4 linked regions of the Homo sapiens genome follow. The protein of the gene in region 3 binds, or shares a complex with, the protein of the main gene of each other region. Each region holds a gene or a part of one and is shown on either strand. Other genes may lie near its edges.

The links.
Region 1: INTS2 (region 3) and INTS12 share a complex: the UniProt entries of both Homo sapiens proteins name them as parts of the integrator complex.
Region 2: INTS2 (region 3) and INTS4 share a complex: the UniProt entries of both Homo sapiens proteins name them as parts of the integrator complex.
Region 4: INTS2 (region 3) and INTS9 share a complex: the UniProt entries of both Homo sapiens proteins name them as parts of the integrator complex.

Annotation. Positions count from the first base shown.
Region 1 is NC_000004.12:105,705,690-105,713,510, reverse strand, and holds the start of INTS12 (integrator complex subunit 12), read left to right. Parts: upstream 1-4,821; 5' UTR 4,822-4,873; exon of another isoform or gene 4,874-5,610; intron 5,611-7,087; exon of another isoform or gene 7,088-7,129; intron 7,130-7,536; exon of another isoform or gene 7,537-7,632; intron 7,633-7,821. UniProt on the Homo sapiens protein: Component of the integrator complex, a multiprotein complex that terminates RNA polymerase II (Pol II) transcription in the promoter-proximal region of genes.
Region 2 is NC_000011.10:77,956,662-77,963,682, forward strand, and holds part of INTS4 (integrator complex subunit 4), read right to left. Parts: intron 4,478-7,021; coding exon 4,292-4,477; intron 3,731-4,291; coding exon 3,680-3,730; intron 2,174-3,679; coding exon 2,085-2,173; intron 1-2,084. UniProt on the Homo sapiens protein: Component of the integrator complex, a multiprotein complex that terminates RNA polymerase II (Pol II) transcription in the promoter-proximal region of genes.
Region 3 is NC_000017.11:61,924,983-61,932,956, reverse strand, and holds the start of INTS2 (integrator complex subunit 2), read left to right. Parts: upstream 1-4,974; 5' UTR 4,975-5,016; coding exon of another isoform or gene 5,017-5,022; 5' UTR 5,023-5,303; intron 5,304-6,294; coding exon of another isoform or gene 6,295-6,312; coding exon 6,313-6,605; intron 6,606-7,857; coding exon 7,858-7,974. UniProt on the Homo sapiens protein: Component of the integrator complex, a multiprotein complex that terminates RNA polymerase II (Pol II) transcription in the promoter-proximal region of genes.
Region 4 is NC_000008.11:28,774,961-28,781,981, reverse strand, and holds part of INTS9 (integrator complex subunit 9), read left to right. Parts: intron 1-987; coding exon 988-1,159; intron 1,160-4,028; coding exon 4,029-4,153; intron 4,154-6,055; coding exon 6,056-6,223; intron 6,224-7,021. UniProt on the Homo sapiens protein: Component of the integrator complex, a multiprotein complex that terminates RNA polymerase II (Pol II) transcription in the promoter-proximal region of genes.

The sequences.
Region 1 (7,821 bases), on a different chromosome or scaffold from region 3:
TATTGTTCTAATATAACAGTACTATTTATAAATAAAATTTCATAAATTGAAGCAATTTTACCAAAGTGAAAATTGTCAGATATTATGTTATTCTAAGCAAGTATGCTGGTTTCAGTAATCCTTGATATAAACTTCCATTCCAAAGGCTGGGTTATTTGACAAGTTTCTGCACTGGATTAAATTCTTTGGCAATTCTTTCCTGATTCCTTTCATTGGCTACTCTGCAGATGTCTCAGTGACCCACAGCTCAGTGTTTTGCTCTCTGCTCAATCCACACTCCATCCTTCGAATACTGGCTTTCAAACTTTTGAGCATGCCACACAATTAGGTATATATTTTATAATGTAACACACAATACACTGAATAAAATAGAAACAAAAATGTCATGAAGCAATACTTATCCTACAATATGGGATAAATCTGATATTTTTTACTCTGTGCTTGTTTTTTTAAATGCTGGTTGTTACTCATTACATTGATTTCCTGACTCATTAATGGGGCACAACTCACAATATGACAGCACTGTTCTGGGTGATCTCCAGTGCCATAGCTTTAAATATGATCTGACTCTTACATGTATATCCCAGCCGTATCTTCTCCTCTAACTCCAGACTACTATATTCTACTTGACATCTCCATGTGGATGTTTTTCTAAACCTGCTCCCCTTCCCTTCGTGTTCTACTTCCTGGTAAAATGGCAACACCAATTACCCAGATGCTTAGGCCAAAAACTCAAAAGTCCCACTCAACTTCTTTTTTTCTCTCTCTCATACCCTGCCATCTCTACCTTTGAAGTATATGCTAAATCCAACTCCTCAGCACCTCTACCACTACCACCTTAATCTAAGTCATCGCCAGTGCTTACAAGGACTACTGCAAAAGCCTATTAACTATTTTCCTCCACTTTCCATAAAACAGTCCATTCTCCAACAACAGGGTGATCCTTAAAAACATAAATCAGATGTCTCGTGCTCAAAACCATCCAATGGCTCTTCAGCACACTCAAAATAAAATCCAAATTTCCTATTATGGCCTATAGGCCTACTGTGACCCTAGCTATCCCTTTCTGACCTCATCTCTTATCCTTCTTCACTCCCTTCCAGCCATAGCTGTCCTTGCTGTTTTTGGAAGGTGCCACTTGAGAATATTTGTACTTGCTATTGCTTTGCCTAGAATGCTTTTCTCCAAGAGATTCACAGGGCTTGCTCCCTCATTTCATTGATTTTTCTGCATAAATATTAACTCAGAACAGCCTCTCCTGACTGCCTGAATTGAAAAAGCACACCCTAGCCTCTTACCTAGCTTCCCTTTTTCTTCATAGCTCTTATCACCTAACACTATAACATCTCCAGTGCTTAATGAACTGAAACTTTAGTTCAAGGAATGAATGTACATATATGAATGTCAGAAATCACTGTCTGAGAGTATTATTAATAACTTTAGTCTTGGTACAATGTGTATCTCATTCTTCATGACACCATTCTTTCTTTTCCAAATTAATAACTCTATTTTAAGGACCAACTAAGTATAAATTAAAATGAAGAAATAAGATCACCTTTGTGAGGTGAATCGGGAAAAGTATAAATGGAATCTAACCAAACTCATAAATAAAGCAAGCACAGAAGTTTTTATGTATACTTATATCCAGGGCAAAGGAACTAAGAATCTTAACTAGATTCCATACATGTGCCTAGCAAGAATATTTATAAAACAAGAATTATAAAGTAATAGATTAGAGCCGAGACTGTTGAGCCAGACCACCTGGGTGCAAATATACTGGTTCTGATTCTTAGTAGCTATAAAAAACTTTTCTGCATATCTGTTTCCTCACTTATATAATAAAATGGAGACAATAATAACTGTACCTACCATGTAGTGTGCCATACAGAAAAAAGCTTGTCACATATTAAGTCCTTAAATAAATACTAGCTACTATTATTTCTTTATAATTTATAACCAAATTCCTTATCAACTGGCACTATTAAAATATGCAAACCTTGATGGGCAAAACCCAAATTATGGTTTATATTTTCAAGCTTCTTTCCATGAAAGGTAAAGGATTTATATTGATTGAAAAGTTTTTCCCAACCAAATACTGAAAAAAAACATATTTGTTACTGAGGCTGAAAGCCAGGGAATCATGAAATGGTAAAATATAAACGTGAAACCCTTAATCCATGTGCATATCAACCTATTGTACAAAATAAGAAGTTCAACACAGTTTATAAGTATGAAAAATCACAAACACTTACTTTTCTTAAAGATTAAAATTTAAACCTGCCTAAATTCTCTCCTACATCATATGTTCAACATTTTGAATTTTATAACTTATCTTGTGTTTTATGCTTTTCATAAAACAACAGTATTTGGCTGAAAATTGTACCCTATTTTATTACAATAATATAGATTTAACCAAAACAAAACAAAACAAAAAAACATGCCCCTCAACAGATAGATAGCAGCCAATTACCTTAAATATTTAGGGTCAAAAACGATAAGAAAAACACTGAGATTTTTTCAAGCTCATTAAATACGTAATATGGGATGCAGTTAAGTCCTAGAGAACAAAAGCCAGTGATTAAAATTAGCTGTTTTCTTATCTGGTAAAGAAGTAGGAAAAGTTTTTAAGTGAAAAGCTTACAGTAACCTTAGCCACAAACGAAGTGTGTAATCTCTCTGGAGAATCAGGGAATCATCTGTTGCCATGGAGTCATAATGCCTTCAGCTAAACCCGACCTCATAATTAACAGTGATCGACAGCGCAAATGGCTAACATGTTACCAAGTATGAAATAAAATTACTGAATTTTCACAGCAAACAATACCTGTGCTTGTTTTAATCTAAATGGTTTCAATATCTGCATTCCAAGTATTTATTCTTTGTTAGAAAAGCTAATTGGATACTCAGTATTTATTTTTATTTAAAAATCACAGATGATGAAACAAAAGCTACAAGTAAAACAAGTTTAAAAAAACAAAAACAGGCCGGGCGCGGTGGCTCACGCCTGTAATCCCACCACTTTGGGAAGCCGAGGCGGGCGGATCATTTGAGGTCAGGAGTTTGAGACCAGCCTGGCCAACATGGTGAAACCCCTCCTCGACTGAAAAAAAAAAAAAAAAAAAAGGAGCCGAGTGTGATTGTGGGCGCCTGTAATCCCAACTACTCGGGAGGCTGAGGCAGGAGAATTGCTTGAGCCCGGGAGGCGGATGTTGCCATTGCAATCCATCCCCAGGCGACAGAGCAGGACTCCAGCTCAAAAAAAAAAAAAAAAAAAAAAATTGATGGGCCCACTACTACAGAAGCTCAAGTTTGAGCTGTGTTTAAATTAAAGCAAAAACACGTAGAAGTGCAAAGTATATAAAATAAAAAGAAATGATGATTCTCAAATCTCATTGACCTTTTCAGTCTTATTTTTGAAGTGAGACCTCACAAAACGATACTTTCAGGTGTAATACAAACACAATTTTTAGTAATGAGTGTGCTTAAAGCAATCCTCTCAGTGGTGTATGCTCCCCATCAGGCAGTTAAAAAAAAAGAAAAAAAAACCCGCATAGCTTAATGTTTATTAAATATGACAGCGAATCACTTAGTTGTGTTATAACAGTTTATTATCATGGATTTAAATGACTATGTTTACATGTTTAAAATTATCACATCACTAGTTCTTGCTAGCTTTTGCATTTTCTCCTGTAAACATTGTTTTTACAGATAAGCTTAGGTAAAATAGAAATACACCACCTTCTTTATCAATAATGTAGCACACAATATATTACTAAAGCTGGCATTTTCTTGATATTCAAGAATTTATGACAAGGAATGGGATCCTGGCATTAAGAATAAAGGGGAAAAAAACAAGTCATCTCATCCCAAAACCAGGTAGAAAGTTGGGATGGGAAGTACGTGTATTAGCAAACGTTTTTGAAACCAAAGCAACTTTCATGCAAATTAAACTTTCTATAGAAGTTAAAAACCCAAGAGATACTGCTGTGATGACAAAACATAAGCAAATGGCCCCAAATGAAGCAAGTCCTTTGGAGTAAATGTTAAGTAGTATTCACATAGAACTGCTTTCTGCAATCAGGAAGGGCTGGAATGGAAAACTCAATGCCAAAGAGAGAAGAGAAGTTAGTGTGACCCAAGAGGTCTTGAAGTAACACTTAACAGCAAATATCAAACCACCCCAACCAACGCCTCCAACTGGAAGCTGCCCCATTTCTCCATCAGCAGAGGAAGACATGAGGGACTGGCTAGGGGGAAACTGGGAAACGCGTACTACCGAGAAGCCCAGAGCCCTCAACCCGCACCTTCAGCAGGAGTGGCCAAAAAGGAGTTTGAGGCGGCCCCAGGGCGGGAGAAAAATCAGGACGATGATACCACGCCCTTGTCCTTCCCACCCTTCCCCCGCATCCTCAGCCCTGCAGACCCCCGAAGAAAAGACCAGTTCTTAGGGGGTCGCGGAGGCTGAGAAGCCGGCGGCCCGAGCGCCCTCTTTACCTGGTCGCAGAGGCGCGGCCAGGCAGGGAGGGTGCGTGAGCGTGTCGGCGACCTGGGCCGCCTGCGCCTTCCCGCCCAGTCCGAGCTGGAATTCCAAGGCTGCCTCTGGGAGCTGCTGCCCGCAGACCACTCGCCTCCACAGACGCCAGGAGAAAAACGACAGCCACCTTATGTGGAAAATACTCGCGCCGGCCGTCATTCATAATCCGGCGGACCGGAAAAAGGGAAGTAACGTCACTTCCTACTGTCGCACTGCCAAACGTTTCCCCCGCCCCTACTGTGGGAACCTTTGTTTTCCTGCTTTCGGAGCCGGCCAGTGCGGGAACCGTTTCCGAAGGGACCACCGGGAACAGACGGATCGGCAGGGCGGGGCGGAACGGTGAGTTATGCTGAGCGACTCTGCTCCTGGCCTCCTGGAGGCTCGAGACCCCCGCGCCAGGAGCGAGGTGGGAGAGTAGCTACGTGGGGTATTAGTTTCCTCGCTCCTCAAGGGGAATCATAATTTACGGGCGGTTGCGTGCCCTAGACTGACTGCTCTCCCCTTTCAGTGAGGACTGTGCTTCCTCCGAGGGAGTTGCGGGCCGGGACATGCGGACCGAGCATATTTCTAGGTCTAGGGACAAGGGACTTGGAATCCTGCCTCGGACTTTGTCGGAGGGTTTTAGTGACTTCTCTACGTAGCTCCCTCATTGTCTCTCATCTTTTGGCTCCCCTGTCAAGGACCATCCCCCATTCTAGGACTTCGATGTGTGATGCTTTGATCAAAGGATTGACATTCCTTTTCTAAGTGTTTGCTGTCAGCTTTCAGCCACTTGATTGGTTTGGAATCGGAGCCTTTTCTCCTGCGATTCCAGGTGTCCCTAAGGTATCAGTGTTATCCAGAACCAAGAACTCAGTGGAGGAATGAAAAAGGCAGCATCTTTAAAATAATGTTTATTGGAAGGGGTTGCAAGAGCTTGCGAAGTCATGAAGAACAAAGTTTTTTAGAGCCATTATGAAATGGCAACGATAATACTGCACTCTATGTGAACAGTTTCTGTTTCCTTCATCTGGGGCACGTGCATATGATCAACTTTGGACTTCTTTTGAGATTGCCAGGTAGGGTGAAAAATGGATCTAGGAGAAAGCACATACTTATATTTATATATGAATGCCCAATTTAGACTGGAGAGATCACAGAAGCCTTATAAGGTGACATTTACGCAAAAAACCTAGTTCGTTCATTCGATAAATATTTTTGAGCCCTTATTAAGTTTCAAGCACTAGGGAAATAACAGTGAACAAAACAAGTTCCTGCTGTCATCAAGTTTACAGACCAGTGGGATTAATGAATTAAGCAAGACAGGCGAAAGATTGTGAGAATTTTACAGATAGGAACATTGTACTACAAGTCCCCAGTCGTGAAAGAGGTGATTGCTTTGCTTTTGCTTTTTTGATGTTTGGAGTTTTTTTTGTGGGGGCAGGGGTGAGTTACTTTTGTGATTTTTGCTGAAGGGACCTTGGAAATGGCTACAATTGTGTAGAAGGAGAGATAAGACCACTATACTTTGATCACTTAATTCCAGTAATTCTATAGCCATTATTTTGTTGTACTTTGCAAAGTGGCAAAGAGATAGGCAAAAAGATAAATATAGACTCTGCCCTTAAAGTACTCAGAGTTTTGTAGGGGACATAACACTTGTGCCAAAAAAAAAAAAAAATGCTTCAAGGGAGAAAGTTGCAATACCATGAAAAAGCACTATGAGATATCCTTGAATGGAGAGACTATTAATAGGGTTTGGAATGGAGAGGGGCACAGCAGCTGTCAGTCAAATCTTCATGAGAAGTATTTGAATAGGGTCTTGATAGGATGTAGATATATAAAAATAGGTAAAGAGCTTCCTGGACAAAAAAAATAAGAGTGGCAGGGTCAGCTAGCTATAAGGCAGATCTGGGGATGATGAATGATAATTTTTGTGCCAGTTACTGAATCTTCTTAAATGCTAGGCCAAGAAATTTGGTCTTTATTTCGAAGGTGGTAGAAAGCCCTAACTTCTCAGCAAGAATTTTTTTTTTTATTTTAATGAAAAAGAAGAAAACTGGGTTTCAGGAAAATTCATATGGCAACAATGTTGAAGTCAAGGAAAATAACGAGGTTATTGCCATAGTTCAAGTAAGCTAATAAAACCTGAATTTCAGTAGTAGCAGTGGAAGTGAAAAGTAGGACAAGTGTGAAAAATATTGCCGTCAGAATCCACAGGAATTCTGATTATTTGAATATAAGGAGTAGGGAAAGACTCAGTGAAGGAAAGACTTTGGTCTCAAACCTGACTAAAAGAAAGTTGTGTCATTTATTGAAAGTAAGAGCAGGACAAGGAACTTTTCGGGAAGATAATCAGAATCTCAATTTTAGTTGTAACTGAATTTGAGATGCCATTAAGGAATCACATAGACACATACACTAAGCATTTGGAAACATGGGATTCAAATTTAAGAGATTTGGCTCGCACTTGTAATCCCAGCACTTTGGGAAGCCACAACAGGAGGATTGTTTGAGACCAGATAAGAGCAACATAGCAAGACCCTGGCTCTACTTAAAAAACAACAAAATTACCTGGGCATGGTTACGGTGGTGCATGCCTGTAGTCCTAGCTGCTTGGGAGGCTGAGGCAGGAGGATCACTTGAGCCCAGGAGTTCGAGGCTGCAGTGAGCCATGATCTCAGTGCACTCCAACCTGGGTGACAGAGCAAGACCATGTCTCAAAAAAAAAAAAAAAAAAAAAGAGATTGAAGTTGGGGTAAAACATATTAAATCATCTACCCAGAGATGATAGTTGAAAACCTGATGTGTATAAGATTACCAAGAAGAAACTGCTAGCAGAACTAAGAAGATAGCCAAGGACAAATACTTGGACAATACCAAAAGCAACAAAGAAGATAAGCCAAAGAAAGAGTAGTCAGAGATAGAAGAGGAAAAACAGAAAAGTTGAGTATAACAGAACTCAAGGGAAGAGAAAGTTTTATGAAATTGGAAGTAGATAACAAGTATTTACTTGGCCAACATTTACAGTTATTTGCTGTTTTCCAGGAACTCTGCCAGACAGGGGTTACAACAGTAGGCAAGACCAATCCACTGCCTGCCTTCATGGAACTTACATTCTAATGAGAAAGAAAGATTATTTACATAATTAACAGTGTGATTAATATTACAAATAAGTACAGAATGTTTTTGGGCTATGTAACAGTGAAACTTCTAGTTTTGTTGAGGGAATGTGCAGGAAAAACTGAAACTTGAGAGGTGACTTAAGATGGAGGTGGGGGTGGCACACTTTCTACTGAAGTGCTAAG
Region 2 (7,021 bases), on a different chromosome or scaffold from region 3:
GTGCCACTACACTCCAGCCTGGGCAACAGAGCGAGACTCCATCTCAAAAAATAATAATAATAATAATAATAATAATAATAATAATAATAATAATAATAAACAAATAAATACATAAGTAAGTAAGGCTGCAGGCTCAATAAACTGAGAACAGTCAATGAAGACTGACACACACAAAAATGATAATTGAATAGTTCAAATCCTAGAATGATTAAATACAGTTTGGAATAAACAAATCACTCTGGGAGTACAAACCAACTCTTTCAGTTGCATTGCAAATTATGCTTTTTTTTGAGACAGGGTCTCACTTCTGTCGCCCAGGCTGGAGTGCAGTGGCGTGAGCACTGCTCACCACAGTGTCAACTTCCTGGGCTCAGGTGATCCTCCCAGTTCACCCTCCTGAGTAGCCGGGACTACAAAAGCATGCCACCACACCCAGCTAATTTTTTATATTTTTAGTAGAGATGGTTCACCATGTTGCCCAGGCTGATCTCAAACTCCTGAGATCAAGCAATCCACCCGCCTCAGCCTCCCAAAGTGCTAGGATTACAGGGCTGAGTCACTGCAACCAGGTGCAAATTTTCAATGTATTGAATAAAAGTGTGTAACCCACCAAAGGTTCAGCCAGGCGTGTAATCCCAGCACACTGAGATACTGAGGCGGGCAGATTACCTGAAGCCAGGGGTTCAAGACCAGCCTACCCAACATGGCAAAACCTCATCTCTACTAAAAGTACAAAAAATGAGCTGGGTGTGGTGGTGCGCGACTGTAATTCCAGCTACTTGGGAGGCTCAGGCATGAGAATTGCTTCAACCCAGGAGTTGGAGGTTGTAGTAAGCCGAGATCACATCACTGCACTGCAGCCTGGGCCACAGAGCAAGACCCTGCCTTAAAAAAAAAAGTACGTAACCCACCAAAGGTTCAAAGATTTATGAAATTATCAAAAACTAGCTTCCACCGAATATTTCATATCCTTAAGTTTATTATCTTCTGTAACTGAACTTCTTTTTTTTTTTTTTTTTTTTTGAGAGAAAGTGTCTTGCTCTGTGACCCAGGCTGGAGTGCAGTGGTGTGATCTCAGCTCACCACAATCTCCACTTCCCAGGTTCAAGCGATTCTCCTGCCTCAGCCTCCCTAGTAGCTGGGATTACAGGCGTGTGCCACCATGTCCGGCTAATTTTTGTATTTTTAGTAGAGACGAGGTTTCACCATGTTGACCAAGCTGGTCTTGAACTCCTGACCTGAGGTGATCCGCCCACCTCGGCCTCCGAAAGTGCTGGGATTACAGGCACCACCGTGTCCAGACTGAACTTCTATAAATACAGTAAATCTCAGAATAAATCAATATAAAACTTACTTATCAATCCAGTCCTAAAAGAAGACACAATTTCCAGTTAGCCCTTTTCTTTGTATGTGTCTAAGTCCTAAAACACTACAAATGGAGCCTACTCCTACAGGTTTATTAATTCATTCTGGTTTTCAAATTCTGGCAGTTTAATGAACAGGAAAAAACACCCCTTTTTCCTATACAAGGAAAAATAAAATATTCTATAAATATTTATAAATAAAAGATAAATAAACATTTATAAATATAATATTCTATCTTACAAAATATAATAAATAATATTGCCTACCTCCTCAAAGAATCACTGTGGTTAATTTAATTGCTGTGAAAATATTTTTAACCAGGAAAACTACATAAGAGATCATTATTCTCAAACTCATCTGGTATCTTTATCTGGCATTTGGCACAAGCCAAACTAAAATGGGTCCCAAACAATTTTAAAGATTTTTTTGTAAAGTACTGAAAACCATTTAAGAAAGATATTCCAATTTCTTCACTTATGGATGAGAAGGTTAGGATAAAAGAAGTGAAGTATCTTTCCAAAGTGTACAGAAAGTTCCTATCAGAGATGAAAAATGAGGACCAGGCAATCTGATTTTCAGGGCCTGTGCTTTTCCCTTATTCCCCATTGCCTTCCAAAAATGTAACCAACATTTCTTTTCTAGAAGTGGGCTTTTTGCATGGTGAGAGGAGAGGAAAACGGCTTCACAATCAACAAAAGCCAGCTTACACCCACACTGACCTTTCAGGATAGAGCTGACTGACGACCCAGATAAGCTGGACTGCAGCACTGCGCACTTGTTCATAGTCATCAGAGAGTAATTTACAGGCCTGCAAAGAAGAATTCCAAAAGTCTATTAGTTCTGTGTCCTCTCAGGCAATGTTTAAACTATTTTCAAAGTGAAGATAGGGTGGTTGGATAAGGATGCCCAGTAAAACACTTGTGTGTGGTTTTAACTTCTGGAATCTTTGCTTAAAAATGAATCTTGACCTCTGTCAGCTGCTCTGGCTGTATTCTGACTATGCACCCTACCCCATGTCTGAAAGGAGAATCACAGACTGACAGCATAAAAACATCTAGAACAGATCAAACCCAGCAAAGCATGCTGGGAGCAAACAGTACTGTTCTCACAGGTTCAAACACCAATTATGGCTTTTTCCTCCCCCTGTAAAAATCAAAGCACACACTTCTGTTTACCTTGGTCTGAAATCACTGGCCTCTGTTTCAATCCACTCACTCTTTCTGGGTAGCCCCATACTCCCTAAATACTGATGGCTTTGAATACCTACCCTTAGCTCTGATTTCTCCTGATCTCCAGGCCTTTATAACTACTTATGGCTGGAATTCTCTTCATGGATGTCCCATCAAACTTTTATACTCAACACACGCAAACCTGAACTCATTAAGGAAGCAAATTCTACCTTATATCTTAAATTCTACACTATCAGTCCATCCTCACTCCCTTGATGCTGTCATTACTGCTTGCCTAGATTACTAACAGAGTCTTACGCCACCAAACATCTGAATCAGCCAACTAACTTCCCTTCCTCTGAGTCCTTACGATCCAAGTTTCCTTTGAATTATTTGGCTTCCCACATAGTTTTCTTATAGAAAAAGAAGGCGATGGTCACACCACCACAAGCATTCTGGACCCATTCTACTTCATTCAATAGAGGAATAAACTTGGTTTACACATCTGTGATGGGGCTTGGCTAATTATCTTCTTCCCATGAGAGATAAAACCACTCTTGGCAGGCTAACAAAACCTAATCTCTGAACGTGGATTTAGATTCCTTTTACCAGATTCAGTCAATTATCCTCCAAGAGAAATACAGCCTCATAAGGCCTTTTGGTTGGCCATCAATCAGCTTTTCCACAACTTCATTATACCTTTCTTTACCACTACTACTACATGCATGTGACTTTTTTTTTATATGATCCTACGGTCTTGGTCACCCTTCTCCAGACACACTCTAGTTTGTGAAGTGTGGTGCCCAGAAATGAGTTCATGTACGGCCCAACCAAACAGTGATCAGAAAGACTAACACGTTCCTTATTCTAAATGCTACACTTTTCTTCAGGTACTCTCATTCTCATACTGAACTTTGTAAATCCTCCTAAAAGTCCTTTTCACATGTACTAGCGCTATTTAATTACATAACCTCCATTCTCTTCCTGAAAAGTATGTTTTGAATATGACTTCACATCCATCCCAATCAACGCTGCCACTATTAACTAGCGAAGTCCTTACGTTTTCAAATTCTGAGAACCTGTGTGCCGCCCTCCCAGCTTCATGATACCTCCAACCCCTTCCAGACAGTAATCATATAAGGTACCTGATTATAAATTGTTTGGTGTAATTTCAGTCCTCTTTCATGGAGCTGCAACTAGATAATAAATATATAGTTTAAGTGCTTGGGAGGAAAAGAGCAATATTTCCAATGTCTCCCCACAATCTCACATATTTTCCCCTATTGTATCAGGCTAACATGGTTCCTTTTAGCCAAAATTAGTGCTATATAAATAAGAAACCTTGTCGTCTTTCAATAGGAGCATTCAAGCATTTCACAAATCTAACCCATGGACTGTCCCAAGAAGGTATTAGAAAAATATGAAATAATGATATGAAGCCTAAAGAAAAAATGATTAACACCACCTCCCCCTATTATAATATCATACCAAGTCATATGCCTCCAAGTCGAAGGAATTATAACAGGTTCCTATTGTGCTTTCCATGTTTCATAAATACACATGAAAGCTACCAGAGAAAGCCAAAAAAGCACACTTGTATACAGGAATGTGTGTCACTGAGTTCTGCGAGGCCACCACCAATACCCTCCTGAAAGTATATGCTGAAGAATTTACAATGTATCCAAGGCAGCACTAGCTATAAACTTAAAAAACAAAAATGAACACTAGCCCCAACTAGTTTCCATAATCACATTTACCATGGCTTTTATAGCTGCTGTTCTGACACGTGGGTCTTGGTCACTGAAGTAATCCCCTATAATCTTCTGGACATCTCTGGCAGCTAGGCCTTCTGCATCTTTTGTGACACTTTTCTCCAAAGAGCCAAGATTGCCAAGTAACTGCAGGCACTTATTTCTTACACCATGAGACGTATCTGTCAGATGCTATTAAAAAAAAAAAAAAAAAGAAAAAAAGAAAAAGAAAAAAAGGACATGATTAAGATATCTTAACAAACACAGACAAGACCAGAAACAAAAGCATTGCAGCAACCTTAGGGGTGATTTCAAGACCTATATTCTTAGGACAGTCTGTCTAGCATCATGTTACTTGAGTACGGGTCTTCTCAAAAAAAATGAGTCCTTAGAAAATAAAAGTCCTAGTTTTTCATCTTTGTATTCCCAATAGCTTTGGGAATACAAAGGCACTTTGCCTTGTACAGAGTAGGTACTTTAAAATTCGTCCCTGATTGCGTTTTATTTGCTTTCAAATTTTAAAACCAGACAAAAATGTATAAATTTTTAAAACTTTTAATATCCATAGAAATATGCAAAATCTTAAGTGTACAGCTCAATAAATTTTCACAAATACACATATATAACAAGCACCCAGATTAAATAGTATATAACCAACACTCCAGAAATATCCCTCATTCCTCCTCCCAGCAACAACCTCACCACATCACCACCAAAAATAGCTACTATCCTGACTTCTAACACACAGGTTCATTTGTTTATTTTTGTACTTTATGAAATCAAATAGCATCTGGCTTCTGTGGCTTATTATGTTTGTAAGATTTATGCAAGGTATGGCAGATAGCAATGGTTCATTTATTCTTGTTACTTATATAGTATTCATTTGTAAATACATGAAAATCTATTTAGCCTTTCCGTTGATGAATATTTAAGTTATTTCCAGTCTTTGGCTATTTCGAATAATGCTACTGTGATTATTCTTGTATGTGGCTTTTGGTGTACATGTTCACATTTTTGTTGGATATATATGTAGAAGTAGAATTGATAGGTAACAAGACATGCTTCAGCTTAAGAAGATACTGCCAGTTGGGCACAGTAGCTCATGCCTATAATCCCAGCACTTTGGGAGGCCAAGGCAGGAGGATCACTTGAGCCCAGGAGTTCAAGACTGTCCTGGGCAAATGGGACTATAGGCATGTGGTGGCACACACCTATAGTCCCAGCTACCCAGAAGGCTGAGGTAGGAGGATCCTTTGAGCCTCGGAGGTGGAGGCTGCAGTGAGCCATGATCATGCCACTGCACTCCAACCTGGATGACAGAGTGAGATACTGCCTCCAAAAAAGAAGATATTGCCAAATAGTTTTCCATAATGGCTGTACTAATTTACACTTCCACCAGTGCTGCATAAGTGTTCTAGATGTGCCACATCCTTGTTGACATTTAGTACTATCAATATTTTTTATTTTAGCACCTCTCACCACGAATTTTAATAAATTATCAGTTTTCCTCCTGCATTACCCTAGTCCAATGCTACTAAAACAAGCTATTTGCATAACATAGCAACATAAATTAAAAATACTTTGAAGAAATGAGGTAATAAAAATGGTACAAAACTCTGGATTTCAAACTTCTTTTGACTAGCACCCAAAGTAAGAAACACATAATATTGCAAGACAGTACATAAAAACAGACATACAGCAAGTTTAACAAAACAATATTTACCTTATAGCTTGTGATTTACTCTGGTACTTGTATTTTATTTTTTTTCAAAAAAAAAAATTACGTCTCATGAAATTGGTCACATTACCCACTAATGGATAATGATTCTCAAAGTGAGTCACTAGTGCGGAGAAAAGTGAATGGGACTTGGCCAGCTTGGACAACACAGCGAGGCCCCATTTCTTTAAAAAAAAAATTTATAGCCAGGTGTGGTGGCACACACCTGTAATCCCAGCTACTCGGGAGGCTGAGGCCAGAGAATTGCTTGAACCCAGGAAGCGGAGGTTTCAGTGAGCCAAGATCACGCCACTGCACTCCAGCCTGAGCAACAGAGCAAGACTGTCTCAAACCGCGCCCCCTAAAATTCAAAAACAAAACAAATGAACTATTTATATTTAGTATAAAAACATCATTTCTCATGACTAAACTGTTGATTGCACCTCTGTTACAAACACTTTGATTTTCAAGCAATAAACTAAATACTTCTAGCTTCTGTCAACCAGGCAACAATAATGCACAATCAATGTATTACTGCACACTGAATCTTAGCCCAAAAGAGAGTCTCATGCTCTCAGGGAAACAATTACAATTTTATGATGTCCTTCCCTTACAAGTCACTTCTTGCATCAAGGTCATCATCATTAAGAACTGCTTTTCTGGCCGGGCGCAGAACGAGACTCCGTCTCAAAAAAAAAAAAAAAAAAAAAACAAAAAAAACTGCTTTTCTTTATACTGTTGGATAAAAACTTATTAATTAAAAAAAATTGCTAAGTGTCTGCAGATGCTATTTGGGTGTTACACATTTTGTCAGGCCATTGAAGTGCCATAATTTTTATATTAATGGAGCAAGTAAGGAAACCACATCCCCAATAATAAGACCAATTTGTGTCAAAAATAAAAATTAATTTACAATTTTGCTATATATTAAAAAAATAAATGGTTCTGTGTATCAACAAAATCTGAGAATGAAGTTGAATAAGATAAAAATAACATACTGATCCATTCAGCATCGATAT
Region 3 (7,974 bases):
CGTGCCCGGCCCTCTCAAAATACTTTTTAGTGGGAGAGACAGAGAAGTTCTAACAATTACAATATAATGTGTTAAGTAGTATAGCTGAAAGAAGCAAAAGGTGCCTTGAGAGCATAGAATAGGGATACCTGATAAGTTAAAGGGTAGGTGGTTTGTCAGGGAAAGGTCTCTTAGCAAGGGAACACTGGAGGTGAGACTTAAAGGACACTTAGGAGTTTGCATTAAAAAAGAGAATGAAAAGCATTCTAGACAGGAGGAACTGTGATGAGAAGGTCCAAGAATATTGAGAAGGATTTGAGACATAAACAGTTCCAACTGACTAAAATGACACCATGGTGGGATACGGCAGGACTCCAAGCTAGAGTTTTAAGTCAGACCATAAAAATCTGTTTTTGGGTTGGGCGCAGTGGCTCAAGCCTGTAATCTCAGCACTTTGGGAGGCTGAGGTGGGCAAATCACCTGAGGTCAAGAGTTTGAGACCAGCCTGGTCAACATGGTGAAAACCCATCTCTACTGAAAATACCCCAAAAAATTTAGCCAGGCATGGTGGTGGGTGCCTGTAATCCCAGTTACGCAGGAGGCTGAGGCAGGAGAATCGCTTGAACCCAAGAGGCAGAGGTTGCAATGAGCTGAGATTGTGCCACTGCACTCCAACCTGGGCGACAGACTGAGACTCCACCTCAAAAAAAAAAAATCTGTCTTAGGGCTTGGCACAGTGGCTCACGCCTGTAATCTCAGCACTTTGGGAGGCCAAGCCGTGCAGATCACTTGAGGTCAGGAGACTGACACAAGCCCGGCCAACATGGTGAAACCCCGTCTCTCCTAAAAATACACAAAAATTTAGTTGGGCATGGTGGCAGGTGCCTGTAATCCCAGCTACTTGGGAGGTTGAGGCAGGAGAATTGCTTGAACCTGGGAGGCGGAGGTTGCAGTGAGCCAAGATTGAGCCACTGCACTCCATCCAGGGTGACAGAGCGAGACTCTGTCTCAAAAAAATATAATCAATCAATCTGTCTTTTTAGTTCCATCCTAAAGAAATTCAACTTTATCCCAAAGCAGGGTAGTGTTTTAGTAGTTGGGCTGATTTATAAAACAGTCTCATACTTGAGCCTTGATTGGTGGAGCTATGTCAACCTGGAGGGATGTCTCTAATGCTGAACTAGAAGTCTTGGCTGGACCCAATTCTATTCAATGTTTTATCCATAATATTAATGAAGATATGATCTGCTAAGCTAAAACAGATAGCCAGTGTAAAAGAGTCAAAGATCTTTACAGGCTGAAACATGAAAGAATATATATATTTTTTGAGATGGAGTCTCACTCTGTTGCCCAGGCTAGAGTGCAGTGGCGCAATCTCGGCTCAATGCAACCTCCACCTCTCGGGTTCAAGCGATTCTCCTGCCTCAGCCTCCCAAGCAGCTGGGACTACAGGTGCACACCACCACACCCAACTAATTTTTGTATTTTTAGTAGAGACAGGGTTTCATCATATTGGCCAGGCTGGTCTAGAACTCCTGACCTCGTGATCCACCCGCCTCGGCCTCCCAAAGTGCTGGGATTACAGGCATGAGCCATCGTGCCCTCCTGAAAGACATCTTACAAGATAAAATAGTCACACTATAAAGAGCATCATGTTGAGCAAAATGGAGCTAGATGTCTTCTGAGATCCTTGTGCTTCTGGAATTCTATGACTATTTCTGAAGGACATTGGTCCTCACCTTTGTATAGTTAGGTCTTCTAACTGCTGGAAGCTCAATTACTCTGCAACCTACATTAAGCACCTAGTATACATGAAACATAATAGATATTCTAATGTGTTTTTCTGTTTTTCTCATTTTTTCATTACTTGTGTTTCTCTCTTCCTCCAGTCTGATTGAAAAATAAAGTAGAAGAATAAAAGCAAGCTGGTCAAGCCAGGTGCAGTGGCTTGCACCTGTAATCCTAGCACTTTGGTGGACTGAGGGGGGACAGATGGCTTGAGTCCAGGAGTTCAAGACCAGCCTGGCCACATAATGAAACCCTGTCTCTACAAAAAAATAGAAAAATTAGCCAGGTGTGGTGATGCATGACCATAGTCTCAGTTACTTGGGAGGCTGAAGTGGGAGGATCACCTGAGCCCAGGAGGTTGAGGTTGTAGTGAGCCAAGATCGCCCAACTGCACTGCCGCTCTTTTCTTGAGAACTTGTGTCGAAAAGGAAAAAAAAAGAGAGGCTGGGTACAGGGACTCATGCCTGAAATCCCAGCATTTTGGGAGGCCAAGGTGGGTGGATCAGCTGAGGTCAGGAGTTTGAGACCAGCCTGGCCAACATGGTGAAACCCTGTCTCTACTAAAAATACAAAAAATTAGCCAGGCATGGTGGCAGGCACCTGTAATCCCACCTACTCAGGAGGCTGAGGCAGGAGAATCGCTTGACCCTGGGAGGCGGAGGTTGCAGTGAGCCAAGATCGCACCACTGCACTCCAGCCTGGGTGACACAGCGAGACTCTGTCTCAAAAAAAAAAAAAAAAAAATTAGCCAAGTGTGGTGGTGCACACCTATTGTCCCAGCTACTCAGGAGGCTGAGGTGGGAGGATTGCTTCAGCTTGGGAGGCAGAGGTTGTAGTGAGCCGAGATCGTGCCACTGCACTCCAGCTTGGGCAACAGAACGAGACTCTGTCTCAAAAAAAAAAAAGTTTTATTGGCAAACATTACAATGTTTCAATGATTATAAAGATTTTTGCTAAATTAATACAAGGGGGAGAGATTAGAGTCTAGGATGACTTTTAGGTTTCTGGCTTGAGCAACTCAAGGTCAAGTTGGTGAACTGGAAGAAAAGGAGAGGGGGACTTGGAGGAAGTGTCAGCACTCATTATGTGACACTGCAGCCATCTCATTCAGTGATTTTTCTGTTTCTCCATAGATCAAGATGGAGATACTGAATCTGCATGATGTTTCTCCATTAGTGAACAGAGGATCATAATTAGAGTTGGAAAGGATCTTTAAAATCACTTAGTTCATACCCACATCTTCCTCTCATTCGTCCCTCAAACCAATGTTTGCACTGCCTTCACACTTTTCCTGTGAAATGACCATCCATGGAGATGAAATTGCTTACCCTCTCTCAGTTTCCACAATTGCAAAAGGCGAATATTACCTACGTCACAAGATTGAATCAGATAATATATATAAAGCATTTATTACAGTGCCTAGCAAGTGTTCAATAAATAAATCCCAAATATTAGCTTAAAAATGCTAGGACAGTACAGTGTGCAACCCATTAATAGAGTGTGAAATCAGTTTTAGTGTGCAGTGACCAGCAGTTTTTTAAAGAGAAGTAGAAACATGTAGTGTGTGTGTTATTATACGAAATATTTGTTTCCATGTAAATGTGGGTTTATATGTTATATATTTATATGTTTATATAGCATATAAATTTATACACTTACACTTATTTTTGTATGTGGATATATACATATGTTTTTTCTGGGTCACAATGTGAAATGTATTATTGTGGGTCAGGTGGAAAAAATTTTCAGAAGCATTGCAACACACAATTCTTTTCTTCCTTTGCTGATCTATGTTGAAAGTCATATATATATATATATTTTTGAGATGGAGTCTGGCTCTGTTGCCCAGGCTGGAGTGCGGTGGCATGATCTCTGCTCACTGAAACATCTGCCTCCTAGGTTCAAGTGATTTTCCTGTCTCAGCCTCCGAAGTAGCTGGGACTACAGGTGCTCCATCACCACGCTGGGGTAATTTTTTTTTTTTTTTTTTTTTTTTGAGACGGAGTTTCGCTCTTATTGCCTAGGCTGGAGTGCAATGGCACGATCTCAGCTCACCACAACCTCCGCCTCCCAGGTTCAAGCAATGCTCCCGCCTCAGCCTCCCAAGTAGCTGAGATTACAGGCGCACACCACCACGCCTGGCTAATTTTTGCATTTTTAGTAGAGGCGGAGTTTCACCATGTTGGTCAGGCTGGTCTCGAACTCCTGGCCTCGTGATCTGCCTGCCTCGGCCTCCCAAAGTGCTAGGATTACAGGCATGAGCCATCGTGCTCGGCCTAATTTTTATATTTTTTGTAGAGTTGGGGTTTAGTCATGTTGCGTCAGGCTGGTCTCGAACTCCTGACCTCAGGTGATCCGCCCGCCTCGGCTTCCCAAAGCGCTGGGATTACAGGCATGAGACACCACGCCCGGCTCTGACTTTATTTTTAAAGAGGTTATAAAGTGCTATATCTTTGTAAAATATTTTTATTTCCAGCTCCTAGCACAATATCTGGTAAATAGAAGTTGCCAAATAAACGTTGATCGAACTAGGAACAATAAATAGTATGAAGACATATGGACTAGCGGTTCTTCATATATAGACTAGTGGTTCTTTTCTGAGTGATCAGACTTCCTTTGAGAAGTTGTTGAAAGTTTTGGACCCTCTTCCCAGAAGAAGTGCCGAGCACTCAGTTCTGAACGGATTCCAGAGAATTCCTGAATCCCCGTGCATTGCCTCTCTAAGGTTCTATGGGTCCCCCAAGTTAAGAACCTGAAAGGAAGGTGTTTAACTTCTGACAGCGGAGGTGTGAGGTCAAGAGCGGAAGAAAGTTTGGGGTTAGATCACTTTTAAAATTCTCCCACAAATCCTGGGATTCTAGAATTTTGGTTCTGGGAAGGCACAGGCAAAGATTTAAAGAGTACAGTTTGGTACCACTAGTGTCAAAGAATAGTGGGAACGATTTTAACACACGTTATGCCATTTGAATGCCATGGCAATCCTGTGATGATGAAATTTAAGTTCTGAGGGGCTCAGTGGCTTGCTTGTCTAAAAGGAAGGAGCTGGTAGGCTCTGGAAATCAGAGCCTACCAGAATCACATTTCTAAATTTTTGGCGAACAAGTAGGGCAGGGCAAATAAAGTGGAGAAAGGGGCGGGGCCGCGCACGCGCACAGTTGCATTGGCGCCGACGTCTCTGCCTTTCCTCTCGCAGCCACCCTTCCTCTCAGACCAGTACGGTGGCCGACGGGAGTCAGACGCTGGGGATGAATGAAGGTGCTGGGTGCAGGTTGAAAAAGTCTCCCGCTTTTCCGTTCCTACAGTCCCGGTTCTGCCTTTGTGTGGTGCCCCCATCCTTCCCACTTTGTATCGACAACCCGGTTGGTCCCGGCGTCTGAGTTCTTGGTGTCCGAGTCGACTCGAGGCACAACTAGGGTTTGGGGTTCCGGATATCGCCTAGGCCCAACATCGGACCGCGCTCTCGATTTCTGCCGCGTCCCGCCTCTAGGACGCGGAGTCCGTGTGCGGTTCCGTGAGGCTGGAGGGTAGATCTTAAGGTATGAAGCGTCCGCTTCTCTGGCCTCAGCGCGTTCCTAGGTCCGTGTCGGAGCCTGGCCAGACTTTGCTCAGCCTGAGGGACTTATTGGTTCTAGTTGCGCCCGGGGCGAGACGGAGGAGCACGCAGGTCTTGGCTCCTCTGCTCCAGTCAGCCCGCCCCTCTGTTAAAAGAGCAGCCCCTCCCTGAAAGCAAAGCAGTTTTTACCCACGACTTTTACCCACGCTGCTGCTAGTCGGTCGGCCTTGAGAGGGGACTGCTTTGGCTGCCAGCTCACTGCCTTTTTGTTTACTTTTTGTGCCTTGGATGATTCCTGGAGACAGAGAAGTGCGCTAATGAGACGCGTCTTTCTCACATAGCACCCACACATCTGCTTTTTACCCGGTAACACAGGGGACATAGGATAGTGTTGTGGCCTCCAGAGCCTTGAATCTGGCATTGGTTCTGCCCAGTGATTTGCTAGTTTTTCCACCGACTCATGGAGGGTGAGAAAGAGAAGCCCAATAGTTCTTGATGTATATCGGGGTAGGCATGTGAAACTATCGGGGTATGAAAGAAAGCACTTAACTATGACCATTCACTTTTGTTTACATTTTGTGGAGCTCATGTGACTGATATAGTGGAGAAAGTCTTGGACTGGGATTTTAGTAGATGAGGATTCAGCCTTGGATTGTGCCTCTAACTAGTAATACTATTTTGGGCGTGTTACTTCATCTCTCTGGGCTTCATATTCCTTCTTTGTAAAATATGAGTATTAGAGCAGAAGATTCCTGAGGCTGGAAGAGACATTAATATACTCTGTTTTCTTTCCCATTTCCCAGGTGACAGTATAAACCTAGGGAGACAGAGAAGCCTTGTCTTGATTGTGCCAGGAACATTGCCAACATAGGGACCTATTAAAGATACACCACATTTTTCAGGGTTTTTAGAAAGTTGGGTGTTCATACATGTGAAAGTTAAACTCCTACTTTCATTTGTATTTTTACCATTAGGATCAACAAACAGTAATAATGACTGAATGTACAAGTCTTCAGTTTGTCAGCCCTTTTGCTTTTGAGGCAATGCAGAAGGTGGATGTTGTTTGCCTGGCATCTTTAAGTGATCCAGAATTAAGACTTCTTCTGCCCTGTTTGGTACGGATGGCACTTTGTGCACCTGCTGACCAGAGCCAAAGCTGGGCTCAGGATAAGAAACTCATCCTTCGCCTTCTTTCTGGAGTGGAAGCTGTCAACTCCATTGTTGCATTGTTGTCCGTGGACTTTCATGCTTTAGAACAAGATGCCAGCAAAGAACAGCAGCTTAGGTAATGTTATGTTATATTATATGTGGATTTGGATTTGACAAAGAACAGGGAATCAGATATTTTTTAGAGCTCTCCAGAAAAGAGAGAATGAGAATCTAAATTCTGGAGAGCATTTTACTTAGGTCTTTTCTGTATATAGTTACAGTTCCAGAATCTTTTGACTTCCATGTTATAAAATGTTATCTAGAGAAATATGGCAATGTGCTGTTGTATGTGGGCTAAACTCATTAGGCCAATTACTTTCAGTGGGAAGTAGGTAGGGTAACTTCCCCTAGATTAGAGGGATTTATTGGAATCACTTGGGAGGCTTTTTTTTTTCTTTTTTGAGACAGAGTTTCGCTCTTGTTGCCCAGGCTGGAGTGCAATGGCGTGATCTTGGCTCACTGCAACCTCAGCCTCCCAGGTTCAAGCGATCCTCCTGCCTCAGCCTCCCGAGTAGCTGGGATTACAGGCACCTGCCACCATGCCCGGCTAATTTTTTGTATTTTTAGTAGAGATGGGGTTTCATCATGTTGGCCAGGCTGGTCTCCAACTCCTGGCCTCAGGTGATCCACCTGCCTTGGCCTCCCAAAGTGCTGGGATTACAAGTGTGAGCCACTGGGCCCAGCCTCTTGGGAGGCTTTTAAAGCTTAGATATTCCCAAAGATTCTGGGCAGGTGCTATGTCCTTCCCTGCCCATTGTGAATCTAGTAGCAAGCCACCATCAGTGGAAGTGAGTGTTAATTGTCAGTTGTGGTAGAGTATTTATTTATTTATTTTTATTTTTATTTTTTTTTAGACCGAGTCTTGCCCTGTTGCCCAGGCTGGAGTGCGGTGGCGTGATCTCGGCTCACTGCAACCTCCACCTCCTGGGTTCAAGTGATTCTTCTGCCTCAGTCTCCCGAGTAGATGGGACTACAGGCACGCGCCACCATGCCCGGCTTTTTTGTATTATTAGTAGAGACGAGGTTTCACCATATTGGCCAGGCTGGTCTCGAACTCCCAACCTTGTGATCCACCTGCCTCAGCCTCCCAAAGTACTGGGATTACCGGCGTGAGCCACTGTGCCTGGCCTATGTGGTGGAGTATTTATTATACGTAGGATGTGAATCCCTGAAATACACAGGCAAACTAAATAGCATTTCAGAAGTAACAGAACATTTTAGAACACTTTATACATCCTTTTATAGCTTATTTCAATAAAAGATAATTTTTATGCAATTATTTCCATATCAGTGTTTTCATAATTGTTACATGTTTTGTACTTCATTAGGCATAAACTTGGAGGAGGCAGTGGAGAGAGCATCCTGGTATCACAGCTTCAGCATGGACTGACGTTAGAGTTTGAACACAGTGATTCACCTCGTCGATTGCGTCTTGTGCTTAGTGA
Region 4 (7,021 bases), on a different chromosome or scaffold from region 3:
AGGTGCGTTTGCTACGGCTGATGAACCCACATTGACACGTCACTCTCGCCCAAAGCCCAGAGTTTACAGTAGGGGTTCCCTTGGCGTTGTGCTTTCTATGGTTTTGAACAAATGAACAGTGACCTGGATCCACCATTACATCATCACACAGAGGAGCTTCCTCACTCTGCAGATCCTCTGTGCTCAGCCTGTTCATTTCACTCTCCACGAATCCCTGGTGACCGCTGAGCCTTTTACTATCTGTATAGTTTTGCCTTTTCCAGAACGTCATACAGTTGGAATCATAGGGGCCTTGGCTTTTCAGAGTGGCGCCCTTCACTTAGGAATAGGTTCCTTCATGTCTTTTCGTAGCTTGGCAGCTCATTTCTTTTTTAGGGCTGAATAATATTCCATTGTCTGGATGCATCAGTTTCATCCTTCACCTGCTGAAGGACACATCTTGGTTGTTTCCACGTTTTAGCAATTAGGACATTCATGTGCAGGTTTCTTGTGGACATGATTTTTCAAAATATCTTTCAAAGTGGCTGTATCCTTTTGCATTCCCACCAGCAGTGAATGAGAGTCCTTGTTCTTCCATATCCTTGTCAGCATTTGGTGCTGTGAGTGTTCTGGATTTTGGCCATTTTATTATAACAGGTGTATAGTGGTATCTCATCATTTTAATTTGCAGTTTCCTAATGACATACGGTGTGGAGCATTTTTTCGTATGCTCATTTGCCATCTCTCTTCTCTGATGAGGTGTCTGTTCAGGTTTTTTGCCCACTTTTTAATAGGGCTGTTCATTTCTTTTTGCTGAGGTTTCGGAGTTCATAGATTCTGGGTCACAGTCCTCTCTCAGGTGTGACTTTTGCAGGTATTTTCTCCCAATCCGTGGCTTGTCTTCTTTGTTGGTATTTTAGATCCAGTCCCGCTCACCCTCCCGTACTTTGGTTCCCCCTTCAGCCTGGGCAGGCTCACATTTCTTTGTATTTTTTCTATATTTTCCAGCTCATTCAGACCAATAAGCTGAAGCACTACCCCAGCATCCACGGAGACTTCAGCAACGACTTTAGACAGCCCTGTGTGGTGTTCACCGGGCACCCTTCCCTCCGCTTCGGGGACGTGGTCCACTTCATGGAGCTCTGGGGAAAATCTAGTCTCAATACCGTCATATTCACGGGTAAGTGAAAAAAATAAAGAAACAAATTGGTTCTCTCCACTGAGGCCATGAGTGAATGCACCTACAAGGTAGAGACCCAGGGAAGGATTTTGCAGTGAGACATAAATACAAACATTGTTCTACTGTAGGTACCAAAGAATGAAGAAACCGCAGAGAAAGAGTGAAGCAGTGTGTGCCATTGGACAGCTGGGCATCCAGCGAGGCCTTCATGCCTGTGTTTTCAGATTTCTCCAAGACAGAATCCTGCTGAGTGCTTTTGCTAGGATATCGTAAGCCATTTCAAGAAGTGCAGTGATTCAGTAACGGTGTTGTTTTACCTGTTAGGAATTGTTTACAGAGGTAGATCTTTTTCTTCTGATTGTGGTTTACTCTAACTGTGGATTTTCTTCTGGAGACAAATCCCTCAGGGGAAAAAATTCCTTTGATAAGGTCAAGTAGAGTGTTTACATAGATAATGACTGTATCATTTTATCAGTGTAGCGTGCCCAGCCCTTTGAATGCTAGGTCTTTTTTGCTTATCTGTGATAGGGGATATCTTGGAAATTATGCACAGACCTTTTTTTTTTTTTTTTTTTTTTTTTTTTTTTTTTTTTTTAGCTCATCAGTCATCATTAGTGTTAGTGTATTTTATGTGGGGCACGAGATAGTTCTTCTTCCAGTGTGGCCCAAAGAAGCCAAAAGCTTGGACACCCATGGGTTAGGGTCTTCAGTCGGCCTTGGGTTTTAGAAATCTTACAGGCTATGAAGAAAAAAGAAAAAAAAAAAAAAACCTTGATTTGAAATCTGGCCCAGCTTGCAGCAACCTCAGCCAATTCACCAGCAAGCATGACTGTCCCCACAGTAAATGGGACTGTCAGTAGCTACCTCTGTGGGTCACTCTGGGCACCAGGCACAGAACCCGGCACATGGCGGCTGTTGGGAAAGCACTGTCACCAGCTCCCTTCCTAGCTTTAGGAGCTGGGAATCCAGTTACACCAGAAGCACTGGGGTGACGCTTCAGCCCTTCCCCCAGCTTTCATTTGTGACCTAGAGGCCACCAGGAACACGCCTGTGGTCAAACCAAGTTGGGTTTATTGCCTCATTTCAGCAAGGGGAACACACACCATGGGTAAAAGAAAAGCAAAAAGACCTTGCAGGACTCCGGCTGGTGTTCGGTGATGCGCAGGTGTTCGCGGAGGTGAGGCGTCACCCTGTATTGGGTGGCGTCAGGATGCAGGGTCATTCTGCGATGGGTTTCTTAACTCATTCTTATCTAGAACACAGGAAGAATGGAGCCGGCATAGCGGGAAGTTTGCTTATGCTGTGGTCAGGAAAGTTCTGTGTTCCGTGTTCAGGATGATTACAGAGGGGTCTTGTCTTTGGCCGGATCCATCATTGTCAGACAAGGTGTTGGTGTTCCAGGAAGTTGCGTTCACACAGCAGGAGGACACATGGCTTTGCTGTGGGTGCCAGGCCGGCTCTTGCTGATACCAGGCCAGGCAGAAAGTGCCAGGAGAGGCCCCGGTCACCAGGACTGCTTTCCTCTTCTCAGGCCTGCTTTGGGCTAAAGGTGGAGGAAGTTGGGCCACAAGATATTGATTGACAACACCCAGAACTTCATAGCTGCCAAGATTTCATTAATTAGGAGGTTGTCCAGAGAATGTCCTATGTAGTGGGGCTGAGGTTGGTGTCTCCTGCTCCTGCTGCTGAGTGGTGACTCGACATTTGACATGACAGTGGTGACAGCATCTACACAGCACAGTAGATAACCTGGCCTTTAGTACAAATGTTTCTTCAGCTAAAAGGAAATCAGGACTGTGTGATTTCCTGTGACAACTCTGGGTAATGGGTTTGCATTTAAACTGGTTTATGGGGCTTCCAGGGCAGAAGTTGTGTCTGGGAGAGGTTGGGGCCATCTTTTTTTATTGTTTTGTGACTCCTGGATACATGAAAAGGGGGTCAGTATTCTCAGAGAAGCACAATCCACTGGAATGGGCATTTATGTACCTGGCAGCTCTGCCAGTTTGTCCTGACAACAGTGGAGACGTCTCTGTGTCTGGTGTGCCTAAGCCAGGGTCCCTCGTCGCTGGGCACAGACTGTGCTGGGAATCAAAGTGTCACATCAGTTAGGACCGAGCGAGGTCTTTTGGCTCAAGGCAGGCAGCTCCCTCGAGTTGGGGGAATGTTCCCTGCCAAGCAGGCTGCAGCAGCCCTCAGGAGACAGGCTGAGCAGAGGGCGAGGACTCTTCCCGGTCTGAGGGGCTGGGGCTGCTGGGGAGCATCCCAGTCTCAGTCTACAGACCATTCACGGGCCTGGAGGCGGGGCCGTGCGCTTGTCTTCCGGGTGCATCTCACACCTGGGCGTTAACTCAGAGCTGATTCTAGGTTCCCGGGTCTGTACCAGGCCTCTCCACTGTGAAGTCAGTTTTTCCCATTGTATTAAATCAGTACCTTGTGGGGGACTCTTTGAAACTATATACATATTCTGTTCTCCCTCAAAATGGTATCTGATATTTTTAGCATTTGTTGATGATTTTCATCTGAATAAGTGATGAACTGTAATGGTTGCCAAACGGTGGTTTTGGTTTTTATTTCATCGTTTGTTTCTTGGCATTTCGTTGTAAAAAGAGCTTTCTTTTCTCCCCCACATATGTATTTCTCCCTCATTTACCTCATCTGCCTCTGCTGAAGCTTGGAGCCCACCCACAGGGTCCATCCCAGCCTGCCCCTCCTTCCACGGGGCCCCTTTGACCTCCGTCCCCCACGTGTGCTTCCTGGCTCCCTCCTGACCCCCTGACTGTCTGTGGGCCCTCAGCGCCCCAGTTGCTGTCTGGCTTGGCAGCTCCTGTGTAGTCTGCATTGTAAGATTTCTTTCTTGTACTTTCCCTAGAACCAGACTTCTCCTACCTGGAAGCCCTGGCTCCTTACCAGCCGCTGGCCATGAAATGCATCTACTGCCCCATCGACACCCGGCTGAACTTCATCCAGGTGTCAAAGCTGCTTAAAGAAGTGCAGGTAATGAAGGACACTGCTTGTGCCTTCACGTAGTCATGTCACCTTGGTGTGGCTCATGCTTGTGTGGGGTGAGGGGAGAGAGATCTAGCTGTGTTTGATTCTTGTCTTCAGTTCTCACGCATCTGCAGAATGCTGGGACACATGCCAGCCCCCCTCCACACTGAAAAGGAGTGGTCTTTACACCCTGACCGCAGTTTCCATTCTAAAGAAATCAGATGTGGAAGGGAAAGAAAACCATCTGTGTCCGCTTAAAAGCAAACCCTCTCACCCCTGCCAAAAAAAAAAAAAGTCATTCTAGAAACATACTCACTAAGCTGAGACAGTTTAAATGAAACGCGTTACTGGGGCCGTGTCGCACGTGTAGGCTGGTACCACAAACAGTGCTGTCGGGTTTGGGTTTTGTGGCAGTTTTTGGTCATTTGTTTCACTTCACATTTTCTGCCCTGGAGAAAGGGAAGAAGTAGCTGGGGTGCAGTGTAGACCAGGAGGCGCGCGTAGCAGGAAGGCAGGGCCACGGAACCACTGTGCTGGCTCAGCCACTGCTCGCTGGGTTTCTGGCTCTTGAGAGTCGGGAGAGGAACTGGAATTGGCAAGGAGGACAGCTGACACCGGCGAGGAAGAGCTCTCCCTTTCCACTCCCTGGTGTTCCCAGGAGTGAGATGAGGGTGGAGGGGCCCAGCACAGCACCTTCAACCTCAGGATGAGAGAGGCCCTTTCACAAAACTCTAAGGCAGGGGAACAGGAAACAGAGAAAGCCGGAGAACCCCAGGAGGGCCCCAAGAGCGGATTCTGGTGATTATTAATGTGCTTGCCCAATGAAGAAAGAATACTGGCACTCTCTAGGTATGATGAGAGCAGACAGCAAACGTGGGGCCTGTCTACAGTGATTCGCTACCCCAATGTATGCTCATCCACGTTAGAAGCAGCAGTGAAAGGCGTGTTGCTTTTCATTATTAACTTCAAATCCCAGTCCCTAAACCAGCTCTTGACGCCCCTCTGTCAGGTGCTAATCCTGGAAACTGGAGGCCACCTGGTCTCCACTTTAGGTGAGGAAAACCTGGGAGAAGCCATCAGACTGCACCTGTGGCATGAGATGCTTTGAGACAGGTCAAGAGGAGGAGCAAAGGGCAGTTTGGAGGAGAAAAGTATTAGCCCTAAGGAACAAGTGCTTTTGGAAGCTCAGCCCGGTCAGCCTGGTGGAAAGCCGTCTTCAGCAGGGAATTCAGGGCTTGGTCCAAGCTCTTAAGTAGAAGCAGGGACAACACAGTGCCCCTGTGGGCTGCCAGCATTCCTTTTCATTTGGGTGATATTTGTGCAAAGTAAAAATTGGTTTACTAATCTTTTTTTCTCAAGATAACAAAAAGAGACATTTTGTTTAAAAAAAAAAACAAAAAAAAAAAACTCTGCCTCTGCTCCTTGGTTGCACATGGTGAGCACATGAGCTGAGGAGTGCCCACTGCCTAATACCAGCTGACCTGCAGATCCAGCGGAAACTCCAAACCCACAGCGCCAGCCCGGCACGAAAAGCCACAGCTCTTGGTAATCAGCCAAGAGCTTATAATAGCAGGCATGTGGGAATGTTAGAGAAAGACCGTGCCCCGAGGAAGCCCAGAGACCGCTGGGAGCAGACACATGGAAGTTACCGTGAAACTTATGTAAAGAGTAAGAAAGATAAATTAAGCTGAGGCAGTTTAGGGGTTTCCGAGATGTTTCTTCTGCCCCAGTGCCTTCACGTTCCCTCTCCTGTCTACGGTTCATTGGGCTTGAGAGGATGAAAGTTCACCTTGGCCTGGAAGTGGTGAGCCTGTAATGGCGGGGAGTGGATCGGGGTCAGGAATGGGCCTTCCACAGGGGCCACTGTACTTCACACCACCTTTCTCAACTGTCCCATTGGTTCCTCAGCCCCTGCACGTGGTGTGTCCTGAGCAGTACACTCAGCCGCCCCCAGCCCAGTCCCACAGGATGGACCTCATGATCGACTGCCAGCCCCCCGCCATGTCCTATCGGCGGGCTGAGGTTCTCGCCCTGCCCTTCAAACGTCGGTACGAGAAGATCGAGATCATGCCAGAGGTGAGCTGTTCTCCTTCCTAGGGTTAAACTAGAGCTTTCCACAGAGGCTCTTGGAGATCGTGCAGGGGTGGCCTTCTTTTGGATTTATGTCAAGTATAAATGAACCAGGCTGCGCGCAGTAGCTCACGCCTATAATCCCAGCACTTTGGGCGGCCAAGGTGGGCGGATCACTTGAGGTCAGGAGTTCGAGACCAGCCTGGCCAACCCAGCCCAGCCAATATGGCAAAACCCCATCTCTACTAAAAATACAAAAAAAGTAGCCAGGTGTGGTGGCACGCATCTGTAATCCCAGCTACTCGTGAGGCTGAAGCCTGAGAATCGCTTGAACCAGGAGGTGGAGGTTGCAGTGAGCCGAGATCACACCACTGCACTCCAGCCTGGGCAACAGAGTGAGACTCCAAGTATGAATGAACAAAGAACATGGACCCTTAACCAAGTAACCGGGAAGAGGGGGGATTTTCAGGGCCTTCTTGTTTTTCAACTAATAAAATAACAGCTGTTAGTCAGGACTGCTCCTTACCTAGCATTCAGCAGCGTGAGCCCTGGGCCACATCATGGGTCAGAGCCCTGGGAAGTGGAGATGCTGACACCCGCTCTGTCCCTAAATACCATAGGATGGTGACTTTTCTCTTCCTTCCTGGACCTCAGTTATGAGTGAGTGTCAAGAGTTTGCTGAATTCAGAGGTAGATGGGGGAGATAACAGGAACCAAAAAATAAGGATTGTAAACTTGGTTATTTATATCCTCTTGAGCATACTTGCAGGTTTTGGTCTATCAAAGTCTAAGTATTTTATAGGT